4 linked regions of the Homo sapiens genome follow. The protein of the gene in region 1 interacts with the protein of each later gene in a pairwise test. Each region holds a gene or a part of one and is shown on either strand. Other genes may lie near its edges.

Region 1 (8,440 bases):
CCTCTGGTTGAAGGTCTCGGGGCCTCCCCCTCTGCATCCGGACCCTCTCCCCATCCCAGCCTCCCATGCCAAGGCCCGCCTTGTCAGTCACTTCCTTTTGTCATCGGCTTGGCAAACGGGCAAGTCTTCAGTCCTAAGATCGGGAAGGAGAGTGGGGTGGGAAGGGCCCTCCTTGGGCTGGGGGATGGGCCGGGGGTGGGGAGGATGAGGGGTCCCTGGAAATCCAGGGTGAAGATAGAAGTCTGGATTATGTTCTAAATCTTTTTTTTTTTTTTTTTTCTCCAAGGAGAGAAAACAGAGCTTCATGGGAAACAGCGGCAACAGTTGGTAAGTAGCAGGGCCTTCCAGGCTGGGATGGGTGCAGTGAGGCCAGGCAGGTCAGTTGAAATGGCCGGTCCTGGAACACAGAGCCCGGCAGCCCAGCCGGGAGGGCTGTCCGCCTGAGGCTGGATCCGCCAGGCTGTGGAGGGAGGGACAGGAAGAAGCAGGTGGGTGCTGCAGGGAGGCAGATGCCAGCTCAGAGCAGAGAGCGGAAGGAATCTTCTAAGATCCAGAGCCATCTGCCCAACTGCAGCACAGGCTGATGGCTTCTCCTCACTGTCCCTGTAGCATGGGGTTGTGGAGGGTATCATCCCTGGGGGCCTGGCTGAAGTCAGCACCTCATGGAGGGAGCCCCGCTGTAGAACGCCGGGAGAGGCTCTTCCCAAGCATTTGCACCAGGCACTGTGCAGACAGCTGCACACGCCTCCTCTCGGATGGCCACCCCAACGGCCCCATGAGGGGTATTGCTATCCTCTCCATTGGGACAGTTAGGAAATTGAGGCCCAGAGAGGGGAAGGAACTTGCTTGCATTTGCATGGCTGGGATGTGGTGGAGTCCATTCCACTCAGATTTTCTCCCTCTCAGACTCTCTCACCATTGCTCTGCTGCCCCCACTCTGAGGCCCCCAGGTCCTAGGACACATGTCAGTGAGGAACGGGCAGAGCTTGGCCTCTCTGGGAGCAGCTCCGCCTGTCCATGGAGGCACTGATGGAAATTGGGTTGGCACAAAGGGACCTCCACTCCCAAGCCATCAGTCTTCCACCACAACCCTGGCCGGTACCCCCTGCCCCCAATAGACATCCTGCTTTTCAATGGCCTGTTTTGCCCCACAGGTCCCATACACCTTTCCCCAAGTTGGAGCTAGGCCTGGGGCCCCAGCCCATGGCGCCCCGGGAGCTCCCTACCTGCTCCATCTGCCTGGAGAGGTTGCGCGACCCCATCTCGCTGGACTGTGGCCACGACTTCTGCATACGGTGCTTCAGCACACACCGTCTCCCGGGCTGTGAGCCGCCCTGCTGTCCTGAGTGCCGGAAGATATGCAAGCAGAAGAGGGGCCTCCGGAGCCTGGGCGAGAAGATGAAGCTCCTGCCGCAGCGGCCGCTGCCCCCTGCACTGCAGGTCTGGGGACTGGGCCTAATCAGTCAGACCCAAGAGGAGGGGGTGGCTTTGGCCCTATTCTAGAACATCAGGACACAGAGCTCCAGGCTGAACACATTCCAGGGTCAGGAGCTGGTCCTGGATGCTCAGGGGCCCCTCTCTTCTCCTGGCCCAGGAGACGTGTCCTGTGAGGGCGGAGCCGCTGCTGCTGGTTCGCATCAATGCCTCTGGGGGCCTCATCCTTAGGATGGGGGCCATCAACCGCTGCCTGAAGCACCCTCTGGCCAGGGACACCCCAGTCTGCCTCCTCGCTGTCCTGGGGGAGCAGCACTCAGGGAAGTCCTTCCTCCTCAACCATTTGCTTCAGGGCTTGCCGGGCCTGGTGAGGGCGGGGCGGGGCAGGAGGGAGGCGGGGAGCAAGGATGGGGGTTCCTGCCTGGGGGAAGCTGGGTCTGGTATTCCGGTCTGTGGGGACAAGGAACCGACCAACTGATGCTCTCCCTTCTCTCCCCTGCAGGAGTCTGGTGAGGGCGGCCGGCCAAGAGGAGGAGAGGCATCCCTGCAGGGCTGCAGGTGGGGCGCCAATGGCCTCGCCAGGGGCATATGGATGTGGAGCCACCCCTTCTTGCTGGGGAAAGAAGGGAAGAAGGTGAGGGGGGAAGTGGCAGAAGGAGGTCAGGGATGGGAAGGGGAATCAAGAAGGGCGTCTCTGGGGTGAGGATAGAAGATGGGGATGGGACGGGGCAGGGTTGGGAAGAATGTGGGAGAACAAGGCAGGCCTGGCCCCTTGGGTCTTTCCCTACCCCCTGCATAGGTGGCGGTGTTCCTGGTGGACACAGGGGATGCCATGAGCCCTGAGCTGAGCAGGGAAACAAGGATCAAGCTCTGTGCTCTCACCACGATGCTGAGCTCCTACCAGGTGATGGGGGGCGCTGATGTTGGCATCCCCACCCCACACACCCTTCTCCAGCTCAGCTTCCTCAAGGCCAGAGCATCTCACAGGCTTTGGTGTCTGGGGTCCTGATAGGTTCTGGGGCTGCCTTAGAAGGGGGAAGGTGCTCCTAGTTGGTGAAGGTGGGAACGTGGGTTATTCCTAAAAGTGGGCTGATGGTCCCAGGGGCAGCTGAAGACCTGATGGATCACATTACCCTCCAGGCTTGTCTCCGGCCTTGAGGCCAGCCCAGCCCTGCAGCCTTCGAGGCCCCCATACTGGCCTCTCCCATACTCTGAGGCCCACAGGCTGCCTGCGAGCTCCCTACTCACCAGGGCCTTCCCCAGTGAAGTCACCCGGCCTCTGTAATCTCTCATACATGTTGTTCTCTCTGATTCCAGATCCTCAGCACCTCCCAGGAGCTGAAGGATACAGACCTGGACTATCTGGAGGTAAAGAGACCTCTGATGTTGGGGCATCCCCCACCCCCACCCTCCCCACTAGGGCTGGACCCAAAGGAACTAGGTGCCCTCCTGGTCTGGCCTAGGGTTTTATGACACTTGAACAGGGTTGAAGGGGGAGGGTGGAGAGTAAAGCAAGAGATGTGTGGTCTGGGGAGAGGCAGGAGAACCCCAGGCTGCAAAAGGGGGAGCCTAGCTCCTACAGCAGGCGTAGGGAGGTGGGGAGACAGGCTTGGGGTGCACCATAGTCCTCAAAGTGGCCCAGCCCTGACGCTTTCTGTGTCCCACCCCCAGATGTTTGTCCACGTGGCCGAGGTGATGGGCAAGCATTATGGGATGGTGCCAATCCAGGTGAGACACCTATCTCTGGATTCATTGGCCCCAGGCCCCGCCACCCCCATTTGCTGGTGTCAGGACCCCTTCTCTTTCAGCATCTGGACCTCTTAGTTCGTGACTCATCCCACCCCAACAAGGCAGGGCAGGGGCATGTAGGCAACATCTTCCAGGTGAGTGGTGCAAGGGGATGGGGTGGAGGGGCCATGGACAGGGCAGAGGTGGGGAAGACATGGGAGGCTGGACCTCCTAGCTCAGAGCACTCCTCTCGCTGCCTCACAGAGATTGTCTGGCAGATACCCCAAGGTGCAGGAGCTGCTGCAAGGGAAGCGAGCCCGTTGCTGCCTCTTGCCTGCCCCAGGGAGGCGGCGGATGAACCAAGGCCATGCAAGCCCTGGTGGTGAGTGTCTCTGAGAGCTGAACCTCTCTTGCGCTGCTCCCAGCTCCCCTCCGGCAACCGAGCCCCTTGAAGCACCCACCTCTCCTGGCCTCTGACACCCCTTCTCCTCCCAAAGCCCGCAGTCTCTCAGCATGCACATCTCTCCCTCAGACACAGATGATGACTTCCGCCACCTTCTGGGGGCCTACGTCTCAGATGTGCTGAGTGCGGCCCCCCAGCACGCTAAGAGCCGCTGCCAGGGGTACTGGAACGAGGGGCGCGCCGTGGCCAGGGGGGACAGACGCCTACTCACGGGGCAGCAGCTAGCTCAGGAAATCAAGGTGTGAAAACTCCCTGGAGACCCAGGCGACTCGGCTGGGCCCCTGCTCTCCCTGACCCCAGCGATGGTATCTCCGCAGAACCTCTCAGGATGGATGGGGAGGACAGGGCCCGGTTTCACCTCTCCGGATGAGGTATGAGCGCTGGGGGATCCAGCATTCTGGCAGGGAGACAGGGGAGGCAGGGAGGTGGGGGCTGTGCCGAGGCCTCCGGGGTGGGGGTCTGTGTGCCCTGGGAGTGGAGATGAGGAAACAAGCAGCGCCCCTGGCTGAGAAGGAAGGAAGGAGGCAGCCTGGGTTTTCCCGTGGACAGATGGCTGCTCAGCTGCACGACCTGAGGAAGGTGGAAGCTGCCAAGAGGGAGTTCGAGGAGTATGTGAGGCAGCAGGTGAGCCCCGGGGCTGCACGGGAGGCAGGTGTGGGCCGGGCAGGGTCCAGATCAGGGAGAGGATACCTGGGACTCCTGGTCAGGGCACCTTCTTTTCCCCTCCCTGTCACAGGACGTAGCCACCAAGCGCATATTCTCTGCGCTGCGGGTCCTGCCAGACACCATGCGGAACCTCCTCTCCACCCAGAAAGATGCCATTCTGGCCCGCCATGGTGTGGCCTTACTCTGCAAGGGGAGAGATCAGACCTTGGAGGCACTGGAAGCTGAGCTGCAGGCCACGGCCAAGGCCTTCATGGACTCCTACACGATGCGCTTCTGTGGCCACCTAGCTGCTGTGGGGGGTGCTGTGGGGGCCGGGCTCATGGGCCTGGCAGGGGGCGTGGTGGGTGCTGGCATGGCAGCAGCTGCACTGGCTGCAGAGGCTGGGATGGTGGCTGCTGGAGCTGCCGTGGGGGCCACAGGGGCCGCTGTGGTTGGGGGTGGCGTGGGTGCTGGGTTGGCTGCCACAGTGGGCTGCATGGAGAAGGAGGAGGATGAGAGGCTTCTGGAAGGGGACCGAGAGCCCCTTCTCCAGGAAGAGTAACAGCCCCAGGAGGTATTGAAGGACAGGAGAGATGTCAGGTGGGGATGAAGAAGAGGGGCAGGTCGGGGGAGGGTGATGCCAGGGATTCCAAGGCACCGCCATGTACTGCACTGCCCTGGTCGAATGCTCGGTGTCTGGGTGGCAGCTGAGCTGGGACTCAAGGTGGCTCTTGGAACCTGGGAGGCAGCATCTGGGGGCAGTGGATAGAACACCCGGCCTGTTTCTGGTTGCAGATGGTTGCCGATCTGCCCTTGTCACAGATAGGCTACATCCCAGGGTTTCTGGCTGCAAGTGAGACTCCACCCTCCCCACCTGGCTCATTTCCCCGATGACCCTGGATTGTAGGAAAGTTAAGCAGGCACCATCCTGGAAGTCTACCCCTAGGTGGTCGAGAGACCTGTTCTTTCACAGATGTGAGAAGCCCCAGGATGATTGACCATGGTGTTCAGGAGCGGGGAGCACTGATGAGGTGCTGGGGATGACAGGAAGGAAGGAACACTGGGCAGAACCAGAGAGATGGGACATGGTAGACTGTGGCCCAGACCCCAGAGCAGAGAAACTTGTTCCCATGACCCTTCCCAAATCTGCTCCAGCAGGACTAAGGTGGCTTTCCCACTCCTGGCCCACAGCCCCAGAGAGCCTGTCTGTGCATCCTGAACCACTCTTTGCTGGGCCTCCGCAAGGGCCTCTCTTGGGTCTGTGTCCTTTTTCAAGCCTGTTTAGATGGGGGAGTGCCCATGCCCTCTGTGAAGTGCCCAAATGCGAAAGAATAACACCTTTTCTTGCATTCTGAGCTAAGCCAGACAGCCTTTATACTAGATTCTATCAAAATCTTGCAAAGGAAAACAAAATGAACAACTTCTACCCTTAAACACATCCTTTCTCCCCTGGGCTTGTAAGAAGATGCAGCTTGATGCAGCTCCTCAAACACCAGGCCCCCTGGGAACTGGGGGTGCGGGAGTTCTCCCTCTGGGGGACAGAAAATCTGACTACTAGGAAGACTTCTAGGCTATGAAACTGACTTCTAGGCTATGAAACTTACAGGGTATGGGTGGGCACATTATCCTTTATTTTATGAAAAATAAAATGTGTGTATGTGAATGTCAGCTTCCCAGTATATTATTGAAACAGAATTTAACCCTCAGATGACTTCATGGTGGGAGCAGGTGAACCAATGAGATCCATTGCTGGAATGCACAGATGGGAAGAGGGAGATTGGAATTCAAGAGATCCAAGGAAGTGAACGTCAGAGGTCCCCATTCAGTGGCTGCAAGAGGCCTCAGGCCAAGGCCAAGTGGATATGGGCACCTTTGCAGGCTCTTCCACTAGGACTTGGGGTTCCGCTCCTCTTGTCTCCTCTCTGAGAAACTGCTTCCCATGATCCTGTCAACAGGCAGTCAACAAGCACCTGTCCCAGCAAGAGGACAGAATGGATACATAAGCAGAGAGAACTTGGTCAAGCCTTGAAGGAAGGAGAAGCCCAGGACCACTTCTGCAGGGCTCAGCCAGCCAGGAGTTCACCCAACTGATTCTCCTCCCAGCCCTGCTCCCCAGCTCCCCAGCTCCCCATCTCAGAACCACAGCAGTAGTCACTGCATCCAATCCTGGCATTTTATAGGTGCACACCCAGAGAGAGAAAGTCTCAGATAAGCCTGTGCAGCTGCTGATGACAGAAGCAGGGGAACCCCGAAGTCCTGGTTCCCAAGCTGGTGCACTTCCTGAAGTTATTTTGTTAAGGTCGACTGTGCTGAAATTGAGATGCTCCTTTTCAGATGCTTCTTCTGGCTGATCAGGTCCAGCTCCAGGGAAGTGTGTGGTGGGCAGAGGCAGCAACGTGGTCTAGAACAGATGGCTCAGCAGTGAAGCTATAGTTAACAGGCTGGGGACAAAATACAGAATGTAGAGAAATCCCAAAGCCAGGGTGGGGTTGAGTGGGGTAAAGACAAATGAGAGTGACTCTCTCTTTTAGGGTCTGAGCCAAGGGTGGGAACAGGGTCTTAACTTTGTGTAGTGTTTGTGGAGAAGGACTTTCTGGAAGCATCTTTCTGAGCCCTTCCACTGTCATCTGGTGGACACATGAGCTATGAAACCTTCCAGACTTTGGAGGCTCAGGATGAGGGGGCCCAGAGACTCAGAGAGGGAGGGTGTTACATGGCTAGAATCCCACCCGGCAGCACTGGAAGGAACAACAGTTCAGTGTCTACCTCTCCCCACTCTTTGCACAGATGGGAAGAAGTTGGCCCAGTGAGGGATGTCTCTGCAGAGACAAGATGAGTAATATTAAGTGGTGTTTGTCTTGTGCCTTGTAGCTTTCAAAACATTTCCTCAAACATTATCTCCCTTAAGCCTTGAAATCATCTCAAGCAGTATGTAGAACACACATTTTCACAGAGGAGGACGCTGAAGCTGAGAGAAATAATGTGTCTCAGTGGAAACAACTAGTCAGAGGTAGGCCAGGACTTGACCCCAAGAGTTCTGGTGCCAAATCCCTGGCTCAGTGGAGCCTTCAAGCCTCTCCAGACTCCAAGACGACCAGGCTTCTGGGTTCCAAACCTGATTAGTTGGCTTCCTGGGCTTCCAACATTGATTCTGTAATTCACAAGAGCCCAGGTGTGACTCATTGACCGAGGTCTCAGCAGCATGCTGACGTCTGGCTGGTTTCCCTTCTGTGACCCACTGCAGGTTCCAAGATTGGTAGGTTCCAAGATTGGGTTAGAGGTTTGGTGACTTGCCGTGTGGTTCCTGTTTCTGAGGCCTCCCTCATGTTGCAGATGGCAGTACTGCAAGACAAGAGGAACCTGCGACCTGAAGGCCCTTGACTGCTTGGATCAGGAATAAGCCCTCAACTCCACTGGCTCTCATCAAACCACGCCGCGAGCAAGGAATAAACTTTTACTGCATGAAGGGGATGCGACATCTAGGTCGACTTAGTACACCATCACCCACCCTACTCTAACACACACAGAAATGGGTTCTTTGAAATGGAGTGATGCTGTATCAGACAGGTAAAGTATCACCAGTTGGGGGCTGGGCAGTAAGGAAAAGCATTTTATGTCACAGCAGAACGTTTGCTAAAATTGTTGCCTACGGCAACTTGGAAGACAGACCTTGTGCTATCGAGGAAAAAAAACTATTTTAAATAAAATCTCCTGCCAACCCAGAATATTCTCTCCACAAATGTAGAAAATAAAGAAAATACTAGTTCTGTGATTGAATAAGCATTAAACACATGGATGCATTATCAGCTAACGCAATCATAAAGACAGTCAGAAATCCCCCTATTTATGTAGTCAAGCAGCTACAACCCGTTACACACATGCTGTCATGTGTGAGGACTTGAACTCAGGTGAGAGAGAGCTCCACAGCGTCGTTTGCTATACATGCACTTACAGCGTACCTAATTCACCTGGTGATTGGGGTGGTCATCTGTGCTAATTAGTGCCTTTTTCTGTAGGGAAAATAAAGCAACTTGAATCTCTAGGAAATGCAGTTGTTGGCCGGGCGCAGTGGCTCACATCTGTAATCCCAGCACTTTGGGAGGCCGAGGTGGGCAGATCACGAGGTCAGGAGTTCAAGACCAGCCTGGCCAACATAGTGAAACCCTGTCC
Region 2 (8,395 bases), on another chromosome or scaffold:
CATGACTACTCCCACCCTCCGTGTTCTCAGCCCCACAACTCCCCTGTCCCATGTGGTTCACATCAGTGCTAGTCACCGCCTTGCGGCTGGTCTACCCCAAGAGACTTCCCCTCTTGTCTACACTGCACAGACTGTGCAATGAGGGCACCATGGCACTCACTGGCAAGCATCCTTAGGAAACCAGAACTCAAATGATGTAGGGAAGTTACCAAAGGCTGCTTAGTGCTGGGACTCAGAAGCTGCAAGGACGTATCTCTCCAGAACCATCAGGTCAGGTGTAGGGAGGCAAGAGATGTTCCAATCTAGTGACAAGGTCTTAGAGTGAGGGAATGTCTTGTCCCCACCATGACTCACCCCTGAGTTCCTCCCTATCCTGTATCTTCCTCCAGAAGTTTAGGGCCCAGAGTGTGGCTGCCAGAGTCACCTAGAGCCACTGCATACACAAAGGCATCCTACAACCCACAGAGCAGTCTTTCTTGCTGTAAAGAGGGGTCCCTAATCTGTCCCAGCACAGAGCTCGCCTTGTTTTGTTTTTTGTTTTTTTTTTGAGATGGAGTCTCGCTCTGTTGCCGATGGCATAATATCGGCTCATCGCAACCTCCGCCTGCCGGGTTCAAGTTATTCTCCTGCCTCAGCCTCCGGAGTAGCTGGGATCACAGGCGTGTGCTACCACGCCAGGCTAATTTTTGTATGTTTAGTGGAGACGGGGTTTCACCATGTTGGGCAGGCTGGTCTCGAACTCCTGACCTCAGGTGATCGACCCGCCTCAGCCTCCCAAAGTGCTGGGATTACAGGCGTGAGCCACCGTGCCCAGCCAGAGCTTCCTTTTCATGTCTCTGAGTCTTACAGCTCTCAATGGGAAATGACGAAGAACCCTGGAAAGCTAGGTGTGGCCTGTTGCCCACCAGAGATCAGCCTTTGAGAATGGACCCCTAGGCAGCTCCCCAGCTCCCCATAAAGGAGGGAGGGAAGGGGAGCCACCAGCAGAGTGGGCCAAGAAAGCAGACAGATGGGAATCGCTACTTCTACACAATCCATCATGGCACTGCCTAACGCCAGGGCTGCTCCCTAGAACCCGGACGGTCCTAATGTCAGAGAAAAACAGTGAACTAATGGGAAAGATCTGGCTTCTTCGAAACTCTCATTTGCATTTCCCAAATACCTTAATCACCATGAGGTCAAACTATAAACCTAAACGTGACGTAAGGAATGCCTTCTAGAAATCTATGCTAAAGAGACACCTCCAGAAATCTCAAAGAACATATGCATGATGTTATTTGCTACAACATTATTTTTACCAGCCAAAGGCTTCCAATACCCCCGATCCCTATCACCAGGGCACTTGCTGAATAAACTTATGGTGCGCCCACACACTGGAGTACTGTGCAGATCCAAAGGGACTAAACAAGAGCTCTAAGAACTGCGATGGAGTCATTTCCAGGATCCACTGTGAAGCAAAGGGAGCAAAGCGCAAACATATCTACTGCATTCTACCAAAGAAAGAAGGGGGGGTATTAAGGAAGGACACACCAGGAACTAATGAAATTGATTCCCTGCATGGGGTAGGGGGAAAAAGGTAAGGGTACAGGCACAGGAGTGAGGCCTAGCTGAACATGCCTCAGTGTAATTCTGACTTCTGAATCATGTAAATGTTTATATTACCCAAAATAAAATTCAAACTAAAAGTAACAAAACCTTATTACACTTAATGCAAATAAAAACAAATGAGTTCGGGCCAGGCATGGTGGCTTCAGCCTACGATCCCAGCACTTTGGGAGGCCGAGGCGGGTCGATCACCTGAGGTCAGGAGTATGAGGCTGCAGTGAGCCATGACTACATCACTGCACTCCAGCCTGAGTGACAGAGCAAGACCCTGTCTCTCTCTCTCTCTTTTTTTTTTTTTGAGACAGAGTCTTGCTAGAGTGCCATGGCGTGATCTTGGCTCACTGCAACCTCCGACTCCTGAGTTCAAGCCTTCTCCTGCCTCAGCTTCCCGAGTAGCTGGGATTACAGGTACCTGCCATCACGCCCGGCTAATTTTTGTATTTTTAGCAGAGACGGGGTTTCACCATGCTGGCCAGGTTGGTCTTGAATTCCTGACCTCAGGCGATCCACCCACCTTGGCTTCCCAAAGTGCCGGGATTACAGGCATGAGACACCACGCCTGGCCAAGACCCTGTCTCTTAAAAAAAAAAAAAAAGAAAAGAAAAAAGAAAAGAAACAAATTTAATTCTATATCAAATTGACAATATACCACAGAGAAAAGATTTATTTCAAATGACTTTTGACTACAGTGCTCTGCAAACCTGTAGTGGGACATATTCTAAGGCCAACAATAACACTCCAGGGGCAGTAAACACACTAGATTGGCTCCCAGGAGAGATATGTGATTCTGCTTCTGGGGCATCTTGTGCCAGAAAGCCCGGGGAGTGCAAGAGAAAAACAGGGAGGGCCCATGAGAGGCCTCTAGCAGTGGTCCAGGTGTGGCCCAGGGTGGGGGCAGTTGAGGATTTGGGGCTGGTCTAGGTGGTGAAGCAACAGAGCTCGCAGGTGGATTAGTGTGGGGGTGAGGGGCAAGGGTGAGTCAGGGACCATGTCCAAAGCCTGGGAAGATGGTGGTGCCACTGATTGAGAAGGAAAAGACTGAGGGGCCGGCTGGGTGCAGTGGCTCTCACCTGTAATCCCAGCACTGTGGGAGGCTGAGGCAGGTGGATCACCTGAGGTCTGGAGTTCGAGCCCAACCTGGCCAACATGGTGAAACTCCGTCTCTACTAAAAATACAAAAATGAGCCGGGCGTGGTGGCAGGTGCCTGTAAGTCCCAGCTACATGGAAGGCTGAGGGAGAAGAATCGCCTGAACCCAGGAGGCAGAGGTCGCAGTGAGCTGAGATCGCAAGACTCCGTCTCAAAAAAACAAAAACAAAAACAAAACCACTGGAGCGGCAGGGGAGCAACACCCACAGAGACAGTTATACCATCAAGGAGAGAAAACAGTTCTTCAGCTACTCGCTAGAAAGGGGGGAAACCCCGCTGTGATCAGATTCTGAGTTGGGCCTGAATGAAAATGAACTGTCTGCTTGGGGTTTTAAAGGCTTTTTATTGTGGTAAAATATACAAAACAGGTCAGGTGTGGTGGCTTACACTTGTAATCCCAGCACTTTGGGAGGTGAGGCAGGTGGATCGCTTGAGCTCAGGAGTTTGAGACCAGCCTGGGCAACATAGCAAAACCCTGTCTCTACAAAAAAAAAAAAAAAAAAAAAAAATTAGCTGGGCATGGTGGTGTGTGCCTGTAATCCTAGCTACTCGGGAGGCTGAGGCAGGAGGATCACTTGAGCCTAGGAAGTTGAGGCTGCAGTGAGCCGTTGATCATGCCACTGCACTCCTGCCTGGGCGAACAAACCAGACACATATATGTCTCAAAAAAAAATACATATATATATATATATATATATATATATATATATATATATATACACACACACACAAAACAAAGTTTACCTTTTTAACTATTTCTAAGTGTACAATGAATGAACTTTTTTTTTTTTTTTTTTGAGACGGAGTCTTGCTCTGTCACCCATGCTGGGGTGTGGTGGCGCAATCTCGGCTTACTGCATACAGGCTCTGCCTCCCTCCTGAGTTCAAGCGATTCTCCTGCCTCAGCCTCCCGAGTAGCTGAGATTACAGATGCGCACCACCACGCCCAGCTAATTTTTGTATTTTTAGTAGAGATGGGGTTTCGCCATGTTGGCCAGGCTGGTCTTGAACTCCTGACCTCAGGTGATCCACCCACCTGGGCCTCTCAAAGTGCTGGGATTATAGGTGTGAGCCACCATGCCTGGCCCTAAATGAACTTTTAAGAGCACTGAAGATGGGAAATAAAGGGTCTTTAACTCTACTGTAATATTCTAGTTCTTTCTAATGGAAATTACTTGAAGCAAATATAGTATGATGATTTTCAATTCTGTGCAATGAAAGGCACATGGGTGTTTGTTAATTTGCTGGCTGCTACTTTTATAATTAAAGACAAATTTCAAAAAACCCACAAAGAAGCCTGGATTGTGCTGGGTGTGGAGTGCAGGTAAAAATGATAAAAAACGTGGATGGAGCTGGAGTCCATTGTCTTCAGTGACACAGCTCAGACACAGAAAGTCAAATACCGTACGTTCTCACTTAGAAGCAGGAGCTGAATAGCATGTGCACATGGACAGAGTGAGGAATGGCAGACACTGGAGAGACTGGGAAGGGTGGGAGGGGGTGAGGGATGAGACATTACTTAACGGGTACAATGTCCACTATTCAGGTGATGGTTACACTGAAAGCTCAGACTTCACTACTATACAATATATCCACGCAACAAAACTGCACTTGTACCCTTTAAATTTAACAAATAAAAAACAATGATAGAAAACAGGTATTCCAAATGAGTTTACCCTTAGCCCAGAGGGCCTGCCCAGTCCCAGGGTGACCTGGGCATTTGCACACCCTCACTAAGCCTTCACTGCAGGACCCAAGGGAGGGAGGCTGGGCTAGGGTGCCAGGTGACTCCCCAAGGCTGTCCCCCAGGGGGTTTATGGTGTTTGCCGAAACACAAACTTTTTCAAAGAAACCTGCCAGGTGTGGTGGCTCATGCCTATAATCCCAGCACTTTGGGAGGCCGAGGCAGGTGGATCACCTGAGGTCAGGAGTTCGAGACCAGCCTGGCCAACATGGCGAAAACCCCATCTCTATTAAAAATACAAAAATTAGCTGGGCATGGTGGTGCATGCCTGTAATCCCAGTTACTCAGGAGGCTGAGGCAGGAGAATCACTTGAACCCAGGAGGCAGAGGTTGCAGTGAACCGAAATCGTGCCACTGCACTCCAGCCTGGGTGACAGAGTGAGACTCCATCTCAAAAACAAACAAACAAACAGAAAACAAAACAAAAAAAACCCCATACACCTCTCTTCATCCTCCCTCTAATCAGAACCCCCCACACACACACAATCTTGATTATGAGGAGAACTAAATAGCTAGTTCACAAGTTCATACATTTTACAGTTGAAGTATCCTCAGAAAAACCACCTATTCAACTCCTGAGTGTTACAGATGGAAAAAAAGAAGTTCGACTAGACAGAGGAACTTGTCTGAGATCACCGTGAGTCAAAAACACACGTGTCTGTTCACCAACTGCCTTCGTCCTGAGCCAGATCCTGCAGCATCCTTCCACCTCCAAGAACTCACAGTTTGGAAGGGAGGACAAATAGGTAACTACAACATAGTTCCAGCCTCCCTTCCCCCTGAAGAAAGCTTGCTCCAGGCACAGCGGAAGCACAGGGGTGTGGATAATGAATCAGGAGTGAGTGGGCTGTCAGGGCTTATGAGTTCCACAGGTGGGACAGAGGGCTCAGGGCATGCCAGGCCAGATGGGCAGAGGCGGCACTATCAACATGGTTATAGCTCCCACCCTATCACCCGTGTGACGCCCCTCCCTCGAGGAAAAAGTGACCAATGATGCCCACCCTGTGTCACCAGAGGCTCTGGGCCTAACCCTGTCACCCCCTCCCACCTTTTCATTTGGAGAACTTTCAGGTTCATCTGGAGAACTTTCATCTTTCAGGTTCAGTTAGGATGGCACTTCTAGACCGGGCGCAGTGGCTCATGCCTGTAATCCCAACACCTTAGGAGGCCGAGGTGAGCAGATCACTTGAGGCCAGGAGTTTAAGACCAGCCTGGCCAACATGGCAAAACTCCGCCTCTACTAAAAATACAAAATATTTGCCGGGTGTGGTGGTGTGCGCCTGTGGTCCCAGCTACTCGGGGACTGAGGCATGAGAATCGCTTGAACCTGGGAGGCGGAGGCTGCAGTGAGTTGAGATAGTGCCATTGCACTCCAGACCAGGCGATAGAACAAGATTCCACTTCCCAAAAAAAAAAAAAAAAAGATGGCACTTCTGAGACACCTTCCCTGCTCCTGCCTCCCTCCCTGCTCTATGAGCCAGGGCACCCGAGCCCTCAGTGTACTTAGAACACCCCACTGTGCGTGCCAACCCCCATCTCCCCGCTCAATGCATAATGCCAGGCACAGGTGCAACCCTTACTCAACACATGCTGGATGAATAACCACAACACGGACGCAGCGCTCCACGTGCTTCTTCTGATGGCTGGAGACCTTCGACCGTAAGCTTCTAGCAAGGAGAGGCTAGCTCAGTGCTGAAAAAAAGGTGGGCTCTGAATTGGTGAATAAACAAATGATGAGTTTGGGACATATCAGTAGTCCGTTGGACACTGGTGGCTTGGAGATGGCGGAAGATGAGGTGGAGGAAGTCACTGAGGAGGGCCTCAGTGCCCCAGGGACAGTAGCATGGAGGATGGTTACGCCAGAGGATGGATCGACTTCTAGCCATGTGGTGGTCAGGTATGCAGACACCTCTCCTGCTGAAACAACTACAACTGCCAAACTGAGTATCTTACAGAAGCTGCTAGAGAAGCCACCCACAAGCTGGCAAGAAAGGAAGGAATACACAGGCTGAAGAGCAAATAAAAGTACGGGGCCCTTTTCTGTGGAGAAATCTGGCAGGCACCACCTTAACACACGACCAAACTGAGCTCAGGCCCCTCAGTGCTGCTGAGATGAACCAGCATCACGAGTAGGAGACTGAAGCTTACCGTGAGGAGACAGCAGGAAGAGTCCAGAGAGGGCGTGCCATGCAACCACGGTCTGGACTCAAGATGATGAGAGAAAACAAGGGGGTGGGGGAACATTTCTGATAAAGGAGACTGAAGGGATGACACAATCGAATACAACACACAGTCCTGGACTCTGCATTCCAGGCTCAAAGGCTCTAAAAAAGGCATTTATGGGGTATGTGGAGAAATGTAAGGTTCTGTGTTAGCTCATTGCTAAACTTCCTGAGTGTCTTAACTGTACTGTCTGCTCTTAGGAAAGGCATGCTTAAACGTTTAGGAGTGAAACAGCACGAGGACTATGACTAACTCTCAAGTGATCAATGGGCTAGGGGAAATACAGTGCCAATATGGTAACATGTTTAAAAGAAGGGAGATGACATCAATATAATCAGAAGCTATGCCAACTGACAGTAATATTTTGAAGCAGTGGTAGGCAAGCTTTTTAACAATTAAAGAGAATGCCTTCATATTACACAAAGACATTAAGAAAAAAAGCTGAAGGCTGGGCACGGAGGCTCACACCTGTAATCCCAGCACTTTGGGAGGCTGAGGTGGGCGGATCACGAGGTCAGTTCGAGGCCATCCTGACCAACATGGTGAAACCCCCTCTCTACTAAAAATAAAAAATTAGCCAGGTGTGGTGGCGCGCACAAAGGGACCGGGGCGGTGCTGGCGGCGATGCCAACAGACCTCAGTGTACTGTGGGGTTCTTTCAGCCAGAACTGTTCATGGTTTCATCAGTGAGCTCCAGTTACCACACCACACAAGTTTGGAGTGATCCACCCCGCCCCAGTTTTTCCTGCACGAACTCATGTTTTTATTGTGTGATTTACAGAACACAAGATCTTTTTCTAAGAATGCACACATCACACGTTGAAGCAGAAAGGCCTTTACAAAATCTTAAAATACCTACAAAATATGAAGTAAGGCTCTTAAGAAATAAAATATTCAATGATTTTGCTGCTAGAATGCAAACATTAGATCAAATCCTTCATTTGATCTAGCAAAGGAAAATTAGAGTTGCAGGAATCTTGTTTTCAGGCCAAACCATGACATCCTGAGGGGTCTGATGGCAGGAACTGCCTGCATTTTCCTCATGAATGTGACCTGCAGTGATCTTGTGAGAAAGGCCCGGAAGGCCGTGCAAATTACAGGGGTACAAGCAACAGCTGGCAGGTGTGGCCAGACAGGCAACTGCAGTTAAGGAAAGACTACTCAATCCCTGAGGTTTTCAGATTTTACAAAAAGGCAAAAAAGCCAGGTGAACAAGGCAGATGAAAGGTATTTTTCACTTGAATTGGAATCCAGCCCCCTCCCTGTCCCCTGGAGTGAGCTCCAGAGAAACTTCCAGAGCCCCAGCAATATCCCAACCTTTCGTAAATTCACTCATGCTCGCCACTTTCAGGAGATGGCATTTCTCAGCACCTTTCACTTCCAGTTATCCCTCGGCACAGCACAAAGAGCTAAACTACCACTCGAGGCAGTTAACCTAAGGGCAGGGTGGTGGCTACAGCTCCAGGTGAACAGTCTGGGACCAGAGGAAATAATGAGCCCCCCCTTGTACTGGCTGCTTCCACCCTAAAGTGTCATCCAGATGGTGTTTCCAATTCTTTCTACTTCCAGTATTAGCTGCAGAATTACGGAATCAAGGAGGCTTCTCTGCATGAATCAATAAAGGCTATAGCACTTTGAGACACAAGCTTTGGCCCTTTAAAAATGTGAGAAATCA
Region 3 (5,661 bases), on another chromosome or scaffold:
CAGGGAAGTTTGCTGGCCTCTGTTCTAGGTCATGATTGGGCTGCAAGGGCAGAGAAGGTAGCCTTGAACAGAGGTCCTTTTCCTCCTCCTAAGCTCCGGGAGCCAGAGGTTTAACTGACCCTTTTGGGGATTTTTGAGGGCAGTGATCTTAACTTTGGGTGCACAGTTAGCTTATTTGAAGATCTTACTAAAAATACACCAGAGCCCAACCTCCGACCAATTACATCAAAACCTGTCCTAGTGCAGGGTGAGTATTGCTGTTTTTTGAAAGTTTCCAAAAGTGATTTTGATGTGCACCTACGATTGAGAACTGTCGTTTGAGGACAGTGGGTGGAGTTTCGTATTTGGAAATTAGAAGACCTGGAGTTTCCATTACACCGAATTGGCACTTAATAACTGTTGTCGGAGCATTTCTTAAGCCACATTTTCGTAAAGTGGCTTTAAAATTGCTCTGCCAGTAGGCAGGTTGCTAAGATGGTCAGAGACAAACTTCTGAACGACTCTTGTAAAATATACAGAAATATTTTCAGAACTTTTATCAGTAAAATTACAAAACGTGTTGCAAGGAAGGTGCTTGTGATAACACTGTCCCCAGAACCTTAGTGAAGTTACCAACTGGTGGAAAATTTTCTCTTGCACTCGGCTTAAAAATCATGAGGGAATATTTACTATACGAATGAGATTCAGTCTTTAAAGGGGTTTACAGAAACGTGAGAGGACAGGAACAGTTAGTCTGTGTAAATGTCTGAAATATATGTGAGGGAGATAATGAGTTTAGCCTTTTTCTTTAATAGGTCTCCAGATTTTCTGGAAAAGGTTCTTTGGCATTTGACTCCATTTTGCTGTTTCATTTGTCAGACTTCTTTTTGTCCCTCTTTACTTCTCCCCACATAATTCACCAGTACTAGTGTTTTGTTTTTCAGACCAAGTCTCGCTCTGTCGCCCAGGCTGGAGTGCAGTGGCGCGATCTCAGCTCACTGCAACCTCCGCCTCCCAGGTTCAAGCAATTCTCCTGCCTCAGCCTCCCGGGTAGCTGGGACTACAGGCGCGCGCCGCCACGCCTGGCTAATTTTTTATATTTTAGTAGAGACGGCGTTTCACCATGTTGGCCAGGATGGTCTCGATCTGTTGACGTCGTGATCCACCCGCCTCGGCCTCCCAAAGTGCTGGGATTACAGGCGTGAGCCACCCCGCCCGGCCACCAGTGCTATTCTTAAGACGCCTCTGAGGAATCCCTTCTCCCTGGCCATTGAGAATCCATGCATGAACCCAGGTTTTCCACCTTCCCTGAGCAGCTTGCATAGTTCCTTCTTTTAAGCGCCTGACTTCGTTTTGTTTGGTGCCCGTTGTACCTGAGAATGAGCCTTGGATAGTGGAGCATTCCAGCTTTCCAGATATGCAGAGATAATACATTGGCTATCAGCTACTTGGCTTGGCCTATTCCGTGTTTAAAATCTTGGACTCTTTGCTAGTTTTTACAGATCAGAATTTTTCACGTATTAATCCAGTTTTCCTAGCTTCTCTTGAAGAATTTTTGGAGATCTCTTCATACTGAGCCTTCATTAGCCCAGGACAGTACTGCTGTAGCAGTTCATATATTTTTTCGCTTCCCAGGCCTGTGTTATTCACTTAAGTTCATAGCCTGGTCCCTGCAGGGTTGTACCCGAGCACAGCTACTTAGATGTCCTGAATGTATTACCGGTTAAATGGAGGTTTCAAAGAACCTGCTGTTTTTGGCCCTGTGCTCTTGATAACAGAGTGTTTGAGGGACAACTTTCACATTTGAGTTTTTCCAAAATTAAAGGTTGTAGAAGAGTCACAGTATCTATTGTCAAAAAGAAAAGAATTTAAAAAGGCAGCAATTGCCAGGATACTTCATTTGAGCAATGATATTTTCCAGTGGAAAGTCACATCTTAAGGGTTAATGCCCCTTAACTGTTGGCCGTATTTGAAAACAAACCAAGCTAAAAACAAGAGACACTGACATGTTGTATGACGGTGTGGTGTGGATGTTGTGTTTATTTTAGTCCTGAGATCTAGTTGTAACTTCCTTGATTTCTGTATGTAGCCACGGAGCACCATTACCTGTCACCATTACCTGAATGGCTATACTGCTTGCTTTCATTTTGGTAGAGTGGAAAGGTTACCTAGGTTTCAGTGCTTGAAAAGATTTCAGAAAGCAGTAGTACGTCTGGTTAGACTAGAATCAGTCCTCTCCTGGGGGCAGTGGAATATAATATTTTCTGACTGCTAATTAAAAATACCTGTGATAGCCGGGCGTGGTGGCTTACGCCTGTAATCCCAGCACTTTGGGAGGCCGAGACGGGTGGATCACGAGGTCAGCAGATGGAGACCATCCTGGCTAACACGGTGAAACCCCGTCTCTACTAAAAATGCAAAAAAATTAGCCGGGTGTGGTGGTGGGCGCCTGTAGTCCCAGCTACTCAGGAGGCTGAGGCAGGAGAATGGCATGAACCTGGGAGGCGGAGCTTGCAGTGAGCCGAGATCATGTCACTGCACTCCAGCCTGGGCGACAGAGCGAGACTCGTCTCAAAAAAAAAAAGAAAAAAACTTATGATGGACACTTAAAAACACTCACTGAGTGGGGAGTGGAGAGCAGGGGTCCCAGGGTAGCCTGTTGGACATTTCCAGGGCGACTTTTTCTTTTTTTTTTTTTAAAGTCAAGTGAGTATGCCATATGGAAAAGGGTGTGCGTGGAGAAAAAGCAAGGGGCTCCAGAGTGTAGGATGAGACATACACCTTTTGGGTTAAAAAGGCTGAGGCAGGAGAATGGCGTGAACCCGGGAGGCGGAGCTTGCAGTGAGCTGAGATCATGCCACTGCACTCCAGCCTGGGCGACAGAGCGAGACTCTTGTCTCAAAATAAAAAACGTTTACATGTACATGTATATTCAACATGTACAAATATAACCTATTCAAAAGTATTTACTACATAAATAGGTACTTACATTACCTATTTACTGTAATAGTCAAAGCCTATGAAGTATCTAACACTGATGTGTAGGTACTCACTTTGCTTGCCACTCTATTAGGTGCTTTTTATGTTATTTAATCATGAAGCCTGGCCACAGGGTGCTTGTGCATTGAGTGTGGGAACAAGATTACCATCTCCCTTTTGAGGACACAGGCCTAGAGCAGTTAAGCAGCTTGCTGGAGGTTCACTGGCTAGAAAGTGGTCAGCCTGGGATTTGGACACAGATTTTTCCACTCCCAAGTCTGGCTGCTTTTTACTTCACTGTGAGGGGTAAAGGTAAATCAGCTGTTTTCTTTGTTCAGAAACTCTCTCCAACTTTGCACTTTTCTTAAAGGAAAGTAATGGACCAGTGAAGGTGTGGGGAAGCATTAAAGGACTGACTGAAGGCCTGCATGGATTCCATGTTCATGAGTTTGGAGATAATACAGCAGGTGGGTGTTGTGCTGTGCTGGTGACCCATACTTGTTCACCCTAGTTAGATAAACAGTAGAGTAGCCCCTAAACGTTAAAACCCCTCAACTTGTTTTTGTTTTTGAGAAAGGGTCTTGCTCTGTCGCTCAGGCTGGAGTGCAGTGGCGCTGTGCGATCATGGCTGACCTTAGCCTTGACCTCCCAGGCTCCATTGATCCTCATGCCTTGGCCCGTAGCTGGGACTACAGGTACACACCACCACGCCTGGCTAATTTTTGTATTTTTTTCTAGAGGTGGGGTTTCATCATGTTGCCCAGGCTGGTCTTGAACTGCTGGGCTCAAGTGGTCTATCCTCCTCGACCTCCCAAAGTGCTGGGATTACATGTGTGAGCCACTGTGCCTGGGAAAACCCTCAACTTTTCTTTTAAAAAAGAGGTCAACTTTATTGTATATAAGCACTGTGCTAAAATTGCAGGAACTGGGACCATATCCTGATTTTTGTAATAATGCCAGCAGAGTACACACAAGAAAAGTAACTGCACTAGATTGTGAAGACTGGGGTGGACCTGCTTCTGAAGGTCCAGTGCCCTTTGTCTTAAGATTTGGTGTAGTGTGTCTTTAGAAACCAAAAAAAGAGAAGAAGATCAACCTTAAGATTAGCCACAAAACTGGGCTTTGATACCTAGGTGTGGAAAAGAAAGGGAAAGAGTTGATGTTTTGTCTTACAGCATCATTGTAGAAGAGGGTGTTTTTTTGTTTGTTTGTTTTTTGAGACGGAGTCTTACTCTGTGGCCCAGGCTGGAGTGCAGTGGCGCGATCTCGGCTCACTGCAAGCTCCGCCTCCCGGGTTCATGCCATTCTCCTGCCTCAGCCCCCTGAGTAGCTGGGACTACAGGTGCCCGCCACCCCGCCTGGCTAATTTTTTGTATTTTTAGTAGAGACGGGGTTTCACTGTGTTAGCCAAGATGGTCTCTCTCCTGACCTCGTGATCCGCCTGTCTCAGCCTCCCAAAGTGCTGGGATTACAGGCATGAGCCACCGCACCCAGCCAGAAGAGGGTGTTTTTTAAAGAAGGCAAATAGGAAATAAAAACTTGGGCTCTTAACTTTTGTAATGATCCCAGGTGTTTGAGCTGGGGGTTGAGGGTGGGTGCCTCGAGCAAAGGGGCTGCATTTATTTGCATAATGCCATGTAAGAGTAGCTCTACACCCCAAACACAGGCTTCTTAGTGGGACCAAAGTATGATACAAACTGAAGATGGAATGCAGAGGATTATTGGTACTTTGGAATATGCTTAAAAAAAATTTTTTTAAAGTATTTTTAAAAAATCAGGCAACCCCTGAACCAGAGTAGGTTCAGAGAAACTGCCAAATTTTATTTTCTTAATTTGGGATTGGAAGCAAGTTAACAGAAGTTTATGAGTTAAGTTGCATTTAGTGATCTTTTGCCATATTTGAGTAATAATCTGATTTTTTTGTTTATAGATTTCTTCTTAAATTAACTTTATTCATCTTGCTAATTTAGTTTCAAATAGTGATTTGTAATGATCAGATTTGATCCATTTCTGTAATTGCTGAAATTCCCCCGAGTTGCTTTTTGGCTTTACCGCCTCTGGTCTGGGAGGTGATTGCTCTGCTGCTTCCTGTAACTTGCCTGCCTTTCTCCCTGTGTGGGACTCCTGCGGGTGAGAGCGTGGCTGAAGACAGCCGTGTTATGAAAGGGCCTCCTGTGCTGTCGAGGTTGTGCTCTGTGAATGTCATCCCCTGGTGCACAGCAGCACCTTCTACACAGGATACAGTTGGAATGCCGCCCCCTCGAGTTGTGTAAGGCAGCAGCCTTGGCCCTTGCACATAAGATGCTGTTGAATATTCTGCCTGCACCAAGTAAAGGGCACAGATAGAACTGCTTGGCATATGTTGCTGGGGAGATGAGTTTTTTGTAAAGTATACTACGTTCTTAAGAATTTGGATCATAACCATGGGATTTTAATAATAGAAAAACTGTTGAAGATCAGTCTGGTCCCTTATTTTTACAGTGAAGAAGCCAAAGCCCAGAGAAGGGTGTTAACTTTACAAGTGTCAGACAGTAGTTAGAACTTGGTGGGGTTTTTTTTTTTTTTTTTTTGAGATGGAGTCTTGCTCTGTTGCCCAGGCTGGAGTGCAGTGGTGCGATCTCAGCTCACTGCAACCTCTGCCTCCCAGGTTCAAGCGATTCTCCTGCCTCAGCCTACTAAGTAGCTGGGACTATAGGTGCGCAC
Region 4 (8,395 bases), on another chromosome or scaffold:
TAAGAGATGTATTTCATGGAAAGTGTTTAATATTCTGCCTGGCAGTAAAGACTAAATTTTCTTCCCACTCCAGATCTTGATTCCTCTCCTTAGAGACAGCAGCTGTTACTGGTTTCTTTTATGATGTCTCTGTTGAGATATTTTGATAGAAAAAGCAGTAAAAAATGGAAACTGGCACATTTCTAGATTTTATTGACTTTCTTAAGAACTTTGACAGATCTGAAATTTTACCCCATTTGTAAGCTAACAAGTTAACCTGCCTCAGTTTCATGGATGCTGGCAGGAGGCAGCATCCTGGGTCAGTAGGCAGCATGAACTTCATGTCAGTTCCCTTTGACATTCATATCTCACGGTAAGGGAGGAGACCACCCCTCATATTGTCTTATGCCCAATTTCTGCCTCCAAAAAAAGAAGAAGTAAAAACTAAAAGGCAGAAATGAAATCCACAAGCAGATAGCCCGGTGCCACACCCTGGGCCTGGTAAAGATCAACCCCTGACCTAATTGGTTATTTATAGATTACAGACATTGTATAGAAAAGCACTGTGAAAATCCCTGTCCTGTTCTGTTCCATTCTACCCCCTGCTTGCTCAATCGATCACGACCCTCCCAAACAGACCCCCTTAGAGTTGTGAGCCCCTAAAAGGGACAGGAATTGCTCACTTGGGGAGCTCGGTTGTTGGAGACAAGAGTCTTGCCGAAGCTCCCGGCTGAATAAAGCCCTTCCTTCTCAGTGTCTGAGGGGTTTTGTCTGTGGCTTGTCCTGCTACAATGGGAGTGACATGGAACAGCCTAGGTGAGTGCTGTGCATCACTGCTAAGGGACCTTGAGCTTGGGAAACCCTGTCTGTAAGAAAACTCACTCAACTTTTGCCCCAGGAGAAGGTATTTTATACAAAAATAATAGAAAAGATGGTCTTAAACAAAAGCTGTTCAGTGCTGCTGCTCACCAAATGCACAAACCTAAGACCCATGGAAATCTTTCTACCAGCCTATTTCTTCCTCCTTCCCCACTTTCTTTAACTAAAAGAGAAATTTATGAATTAATTTCAGTGGAGAAGTAGATGGTTTTTTAACCATCAAATACATTATAATTTTACTAGAAAAAGTATAAGCATTATACATATGGATATAAAGAAAAAATAATTATGTGCAAATGCAAGAATATTGGCAGTATGTTGTGTTTGACAGTAACTCTTTGATAAAGTCAACTAACAGCACAATTTTTTAAAAATAGGTGTAGTTTTAAAATGCAGTTGTTTGGATCTTTTTTTTTTTTTTTTTTTTAGTTATTAAATGTTTTATCCTTGTGTCAGTTAAGCAGGTGATAATGCTTTACAGGTTATATAGTACTTTCAGAGAAACTTTACTTAAATCTCAAAATAGTCCAATAAGAAGATAACCCTGTTTTATAGGTACAGAAATTGAGGCTTAAAAAAAAATTAAGTGAGTTGTTCTAGGTCAGATGTTAGTAAGTGGCAGAATGGTAATCTAAACCCAAGGCCTCAACAACTACAAAAAATCTGAAAGTCTGTTTTTTTCCTAGAGTTTAGCTACTTTATCCTGACCCTTCTCAATCAGTAGTCTGTCTTCAACGATTTGGACTTCAAACCACTTTTAGAAATATGTCTGTGAACTCATGTGCGTATCCAGAGCTTTACAAGTCAGCAAGAGAATGCCTCAGAATAGATTTTCCAATATGTAGCAACATAAGCCTAAAGAATAATTTTCAAGATTATCTCTATATTTTTATTTTAAGTAAAAGTACATGACAGATCCTGGATTAATGAGAAAGGGATCAAATATTAATCCAAAATGGAAGCTATTTTAATTTAGACATTTGGTGGTATTTAATTTGATATACAAGGAGGTTAGAAGGAGAAATAGGTTTTACAATAGAGATAAGTTTTTCTTATACCTGCTGAGTGTTTTATTTTAAGTAGGATTTTTTTGGCCAGTTAATCCATGCTAATAGGAAATTTGGAAAATAGAGAAAAATATAAAAAATGTAAAATAAGAGTCCCTTATTTCATTAACATCGTAATAAGAGATAAGCACTTTTAATTATTTATGGCCTTCTAGTCTTTTAATCAGTGTCTGTATTTAATGTAATTGGGATGATAATTTATGCATTTTTGTTTTTTTTGTTTTGTTTAACCCTGATTCCAGTTTCTACATGATTATTTTTACGACATATTTTTGTTAGCTACATAACGTTCTAGTGTCAGAATTATTAGTATTTAGTTAAAACCTGCTCAGATTGGGTTTTTAGGTTGTGTTTTTGCTGCAATAAACATAATAGGAACAACATGTTTTCATGTAAAGCTTTATCCTCATTTTGTACTGCAGGAAAAATACCTAGGTTAGAATTACTAAATTAAAAAATGGACACTTGGGGCCAGGCGCAGTGGCTTACGCCTGTAATTCCACCACTTTGGGGAGCTGAGGCGGGCAGATCACTTGACATCGAGAGTTCAAGACCAGCCTGACCAACATGGAGAAACCCCGTCTCTACTAAAAATACAAAAAATTATCCAGACGTAGTGGCACATGCCTGTAATCTCAGCTACTTGGGAGGCTGAGGTAGGAGAATCGCTTGAACCCGGGAGGCAGAGGTTGTGGTGAGCCGAGATCATGCCATTGAACTCCAGCCTGGGCAACAAGAGCGAAACTCCGTCTCCAAAAAAAAAAAAAGACACTTATTTAGGCTTTCCATATATCATGGTAATTTGCTTTCTAAAAGGCTATATGAATTTTTAAGTGTGCTTGTTTCTCTATATGCTCAACAGAATGGAATGCTATCTTAAAAGAAAAAAGATACTTGGTAGTTTGATAACTAGTAATGTTATTTTAAGTTGTATGTTTTTAGTTACTAGTAAGCAGTTTGAATTCTGTGAAACTTTTGTTCATGATCTTTACTCATTTTTTAAGTGCATTTATGATCTCTTCAGGCTATTAGCCTCTTGTCATCAAATGTGTGTAAGATTTAAGACTCATCACTGTCAAGTTAATGGATGAGTTCTCAGAGGCAAAGGCTTTATAGAGAAAAGAAGATAGGAGTGTGAACTGAGCCCTGAGGACAGCCTGCAAGGAGTGGATAAAAAGCCAATAAACAGAAAATGTTAGTGTTCAGAAATTAGGAGAAGACTGAATACTTTCCCTACTCTTAAAATTAATCCTTTTATTATAAGTATACAGTCTTTTCTCTCAGAATTTAGTTAAGTAACTCACTGATGTTACTCAAAAATTGTTACTCGATTAAAAAAATTTTCTGAGCTAAGATGACAGTGACTGTCTTCTAAATTTTAGTTTCAGTTAATTTTTCAAAACAAAACCAACACAATCAAAGCCCCCTTGTGCACCTCTGACTGTATCCCTCCCTGCCTTCCAATTATCCTGAAATTGATATTTATCACTCCCATCTTTTGTACGTGTGTCTCACATCCTGTACCTTAGTCTTTTCTTGTTAATTAAAGCAGATGTTCCATGTAAACTTATTTATTAATATTTCTTCAACTGAAATATCATTTGGACCTAGGGTAAAGTTAAATATACTATTGTGTTATATTACTCCGTTTACTTTCTTCTATGTTTGCCTTTGAATTGTCCAACTCTTTGCTAGTTCCATGCTTGGTTTAACCCAGCCAGTGTTCTGCCGTCTGTGGTTAGTAGAACTCAGAAATTGGAGGAATCCAGAACAGTAGTTGAAATACTTGGGGGCGGGGGACAGGGTAGGAGTGGAGGGTAGGAGCAAGAGGGCAAAGAGAAATGAAATGCAGCTGAGAGAATAATCAGATTCCTTCCAAAGCAACTGAACATTGTCAGTCCGCATAGCATCATAAATAGCTTTCTGAAACTACTTTTTTTTTTTTTTTTGAGACGGAGCCTTGCTCTGCTGCTCAGGCTGGAGTGCGGTGGCGCGATCTCGGCTCACTGCAACCTCTGCCTCCCAGGTTCAGGCGATTCTCCTGCCTAAGCCTCCCGAGTAGCTGGGACTACCAGCGTGCGCCACCACGCCCAGCTAATTTTTGTGTTCTTAGTAGAGATGGGGTTTTACCATGTTGGCCAGGATGGTCTCGATCTCTTGACCTCGTGATCTCCTTGCCTTAGCCTCCCAAAGTGCTGGGATTACAGGCATGAACCACCACACCCGGCCAGAAACTACTTTTTACGGCTGGAGTTTCAGAACTAATTTAGTAAAGGATTGAAAAGGAAGGAGGATACAGTTGACTCATTTGTACAGAGTATATGACTCATTTGTACAGAATGAAAACATGTTTATGAAGGTTCACACTAAGTGAAAGCTGGCATCCAAGTTGATTCAGACAAAAGTGAAAGTCAAGAAGTTAATAGTACATTAATTCTCCAAATGCATGCCAGCAGAGCGTGGCAGGAAGGTACACAAGTCAGCAGATCTGGGTTGTCCTGGTTCTCCTATTGACTCGTGTGTGTGATGTTAGGTGGGTGAATCTTGGCTTTGAATCTCCATTTGTAAAATAACTCTCCTGAAATAGAGATGGATAGGGTAGAATACCATATTTCTTAAGATCTTTTATAAGTTGATTCCATTGTTGTAAATTATGAATCCTAAAGTATTTCTTTATGAAAAATTTTTTAAGGCTATGATTTACTAAACTTTCTTAAAATTTTAAATTTTAGGGAAGACATGTAAGGAATTTGCATAAGACAGTTATGCAAAATGGAGCTGGAGGAGCTTTATTTGTGGTAAGTAATTACTTAGATTTCTTTGGAAAGAAAAGACTTGGAAATTGGGGTAAATCCATTGTAAAAATCCAAAATATCTTAAATACCATTGTCTTTGATATATGATGGTCATCGTGAGAATTTACATACAGCTAATTGAATTTACTACATTTCAAAAGATGTTGGTTCCAGTTGAACCTCATGAGTTTAAATTAGTATCAGGAAAACTCTGGGAATAAGAATTTATTTCCAGTGAAATTACTGTGTGAGCCCTAACCTGATTCTCATCACACTTTGGGTTCTCAGTCATGTTGGCTTACTGAGAGTTTGGAGATTGTAACTTGTTGAATCCCAAAATGACACTAGTTTGAAACTCATGGATTTTAGTAATGTAGTAACTAGATTAGCAGCTGGTCTTTATATTTTTAGTTTCCGGAGTTTTAACTATAAATAGAAGTCTGTGAACTCCCCAGATTAGTTGCACAATTTGGAAAGGATAAGATATTATATCTCCCTTTTCTGACAAGGTGCTGTTTTCAGGGATTAATCTAGTATAAAGGCAATATAGTGGACTTGTGTGATGATTTAGAGTTAGTGGTGTAAGAAGTAGCTTCCTGCTATATATCAAGCATCAAATTGGCCACATATTTGAGATCATTGTCCAGAGTGTCTGTTTTCTTTCCTCTTTTGGCTTATGTCCTTTAAAAAGCAGAACTCCGAGAGTTAACATATCAAGAGATTCATTTCTGTATTCACCACACATACATAACATTAATTGATCGTAAGTGTTAATCTCAGTGTGACTCATTTGATTTCCTGTTGACATGCCATTTCTTGTCAGTTTTTGAAGAGGGCCTGCTTCTGCTCTTTTAAGAAGAGATAAAGCTTCTTGCTGTTGGCTATTATGGAAAACGTGGGAAAGAGATGGTGCTGTTTTTTTTTTTTTTTTTTTTTTTTTAAGATGGTCCTTTTGTACCCTCCTAAAGTAATGGGTCTTAACCCTTTTGGATCCCAGATCCCTTTGACAATCTGATAACCTTGCTTTTGGGAAAATACACATATGTTCACATTTAAAATTTTGTGTTTTAATTTCATAAAGGCTTCCAATAATTGGTAATGTTTTGGTAATTCTATCAGAAGATCTTACTCTCTAATGAAGCTGGATAACACTTTTTGTTGTTTGGGTTTTTTTGGTCCTAAAGGTACTTCTCTTATTCTTTAAATGGTCCTTTGTAAATTTTTAAATTCTGCTAACTTTACTTTGGTAATCATACTTATCAAATGTGTGTTTAGACATTCTTTTTGATGGAAGGATAGGGTGGTATATATCATGTTGGAATTAAAATGGAGAGATTAAACAATAAGTAATAGTATAGTAATGTACAGTGTCATTCACACTTGAGAGAATTTGGATAAGTCTGAAAAACTGTTTTTGTTGTGTAGCACAGAGATACTCCTGAGAATAACCCTGATACTCCATTTGATTTCACACCAGAAAACTATAAGGTATGGCTAAATTAACATTATAATTAATTTACCAAATAGGTAATATTTTCTAGATGTATAAAATGATGTTCTTTCTTTTATACAGAGGATAGAGGCAATTGTAAAAAACTATCCAGAAGGCCATAAAGCAGCAGCTGTTCTTCCAGTCCTGGATTTAGCCCAAAGGCAGAATGGGTGGTTGCCCATCTCTGCTATGAACAAGGTACTGGATTCATTTTTGCCTTAGTTCTAAAAGAGAAGAGATTGTGTATGATAATTTCCTTTTATAGAAATTACTCTGATCATCTCCAGTGTCAGAATCTAGGATTTTGGAGCCCTTTAGCCATTTGTATGTTTCCTTGAATTGTCTTTGTGTTTTTGTTCATTCCCTTAATGCATAGAGGTGATTTCTAACCTTGCAGGAAATAAGGAAGGCATTATGGTGAAAGAGGGTATGTGTTTTTTTTTTTCCTTTTGAAGGAAATGGTCAAAGATAAAAGATTCCAAATGTGTATAACTTAGTGTCAAGATATTCTGAAAATTAATGTAATATTTAAACACTAGAATTACAGAAAAGAAGATCTGCTCACTAGTATGAAAATTTTTAATATTTTACATCTTTGGCTGTAGGCTGTAAGAAAAATCTGTATAATAGGTGATATTTATACAATTTGATTATGCTACTTTGGAATCAACGACCTATAGAAATGCTATGGATGACCCATTTTATTCAAAGTTACTCTATTCATATAATATTCATTTTTCCTAATAGTTTTGAGCAGTAATACAAATTTCAAGTTTATTCGTATCCTGTTAATACAAATAACTACATTTGTGTGGTGATGTATTACAGCATATCATTTATAAAGTGCCATACACAAACCACATACTATTTGATTCTGATGAGAATCACATAACCATTAAGCTGTGTTATATAATGGAAAATATTTTTGACTTAGAACTAAGACACCTGATTTTTCTCTGAACTTCCTCATTGGCAATGAAAGTTTTGAACCAGGTAGACCTCTTCTAATTATTAAGTTATGATTTCTGAGCGGTAGTGCTAGGACTGAATTCATTTCTAAATCAGTGCATTTTCTACTTGACTGACTATAACAGAGATTTTGTTGTACTTCATTCTTACCACTTTCTAAACTTAATTTGGTTATAACTCTTAGGCTAGACAATCATCTTTCTGAGAGAATAGGAATGTCCTCAATTTATCTAATAGAATCCTAAATGCAAATTTTAGATTTAGTTTATTGATATTTTATTTTATTTGCATTGTATAGTACTATAACACTGGTTTTTCCCTATGAAAAATATTATAAAGCAAGTTTAGTGAGTTACTATCCTGAGTAAACATAGGTGGTTATTTCTTCGATAAATTATGTATTTCTTGGGAAGTTACTTAACATTTTTTTAAATTAAAATAGCCAACTTTATAATGATTTAGGTATATGTTTCTAATTATAATGTTATTATTTTGAAAAAATCATATTTTTAGTAATGGTAAGCCTGTTGGAAATCTTGCTGAGTGGCACGTTAGCAGAGCAAAATAAAAATAAATAAGAAACTGAAAGTGAAAACATTTAAAAAATAAGACAGGCATGGTGGTGCATGCCTGTAGACCCAGGTACTCAGGATGTTGATGTGGGAGGATTGCTTGAGCTTAAGACCAGCCTGGGCAAGATGGTGAGACCCTATCTCTTAAAAAATATGTATTTATATATTGTCCTATTATATTTAGGGTTGGATTTGTGTGGGGGAAAGGCAGGAAGTGTAGGGTATAGGGAATAGACTCAAGATTCTTTGCACTTTACATTTGGGACTTTTATTTTAATGTTACTGCCCCTCCCCCCAACCCATGAAACACCTAACCTTACAACAAAAAATATCCAGAAGCTTAATAATTATTTATTTAACCGTCACTAAGGTGTAGGGAGATGTGCAGAATTCCAGGAAGGAGTCTTTTCCTAATTAGACAGTCAGAGCCTCATTCCAGATTTATTATTCCTTTGGTAGGGTTCCAGCATGTATATTTTGATAGAGAGCTCCCCAGATTCAGGGATACGTCCTTGATTCAGAACTGCCGAATGAAATAGCACAATTACTTTATCTGTCACAAGTGAGCCATGATTAGATGTCTTTTGAGAATATATTTCCTTTAGAATTCCTAATATGAGAAAGTTAACATACTTGTCTGAA

What was found.
Region 2: the proteins of RNF112 (region 1) and MECP2 interact in binary tests that used the Homo sapiens proteins (3 or more experiments, as listed by UniProt).
Region 3: the proteins of RNF112 (region 1) and SOD1 interact in binary tests that used the Homo sapiens proteins (3 or more experiments, as listed by UniProt).
Region 4: the proteins of RNF112 (region 1) and NDUFV2 interact in binary tests that used the Homo sapiens proteins (3 or more experiments, as listed by UniProt).

Annotation. Positions count from the first base shown.
Region 1 is NC_000017.11:19,411,344-19,419,783, forward strand, and holds the end of RNF112 (RING finger protein 112), read left to right. Parts: 5' UTR 1-65; coding exon 66-119; intron 120-127; exon of another isoform or gene 128-156; intron 157-286; coding exon 287-327; intron 328-1,154; coding exon 1,155-1,440; intron 1,441-1,594; coding exon 1,595-1,801; intron 1,802-1,936; coding exon 1,937-2,068; intron 2,069-2,233; coding exon 2,234-2,338; intron 2,339-2,751; coding exon 2,752-2,802; intron 2,803-3,105; coding exon 3,106-3,162; intron 3,163-3,242; coding exon 3,243-3,317; intron 3,318-3,402; coding exon of another isoform or gene 3,403-3,426; coding exon 3,427-3,544; intron 3,545-3,694; coding exon 3,695-3,864; intron 3,865-3,942; coding exon 3,943-3,996; intron 3,997-4,174; coding exon 4,175-4,249; intron 4,250-4,361; coding exon 4,362-4,832; 3' UTR 4,833-5,933; downstream 5,934-8,440. UniProt on the Homo sapiens protein: E3 ubiquitin-protein ligase that plays an important role in neuronal differentiation, including neurogenesis and gliogenesis, during brain development.
Region 2 is NC_000023.11:154,033,715-154,042,109, forward strand, and holds part of MECP2 (methyl-CpG-binding protein 2), read right to left. Parts: intron 6,190-8,395; exon of another isoform or gene 6,078-6,189; intron 3,148-6,077; exon of another isoform or gene 210-3,147; intron 1-209. UniProt on the Homo sapiens protein: Chromosomal protein that binds to methylated DNA. It can bind specifically to a single methyl-CpG pair. It is not influenced by sequences flanking the methyl-CpGs.
Region 3 is NC_000021.9:31,660,462-31,666,122, forward strand, and holds part of SOD1 (superoxide dismutase [Cu-Zn]), read left to right. Parts: intron 1-3,328; coding exon 3,329-3,425; intron 3,426-3,844; exon of another isoform or gene 3,845-4,021; intron 4,022-5,661. UniProt on the Homo sapiens protein: Destroys radicals which are normally produced within the cells and which are toxic to biological systems.
Region 4 is NC_000018.10:9,113,181-9,121,575, forward strand, and holds part of NDUFV2 (NADH dehydrogenase [ubiquinone] flavoprotein 2, mitochondrial precursor), read left to right. Parts: exon of another isoform or gene 1-4,458; intron 4,459-4,657; coding exon 4,658-4,723; intron 4,724-6,145; coding exon 6,146-6,208; intron 6,209-6,293; coding exon 6,294-6,410; intron 6,411-8,084; exon of another isoform or gene 8,085-8,276; intron 8,277-8,395.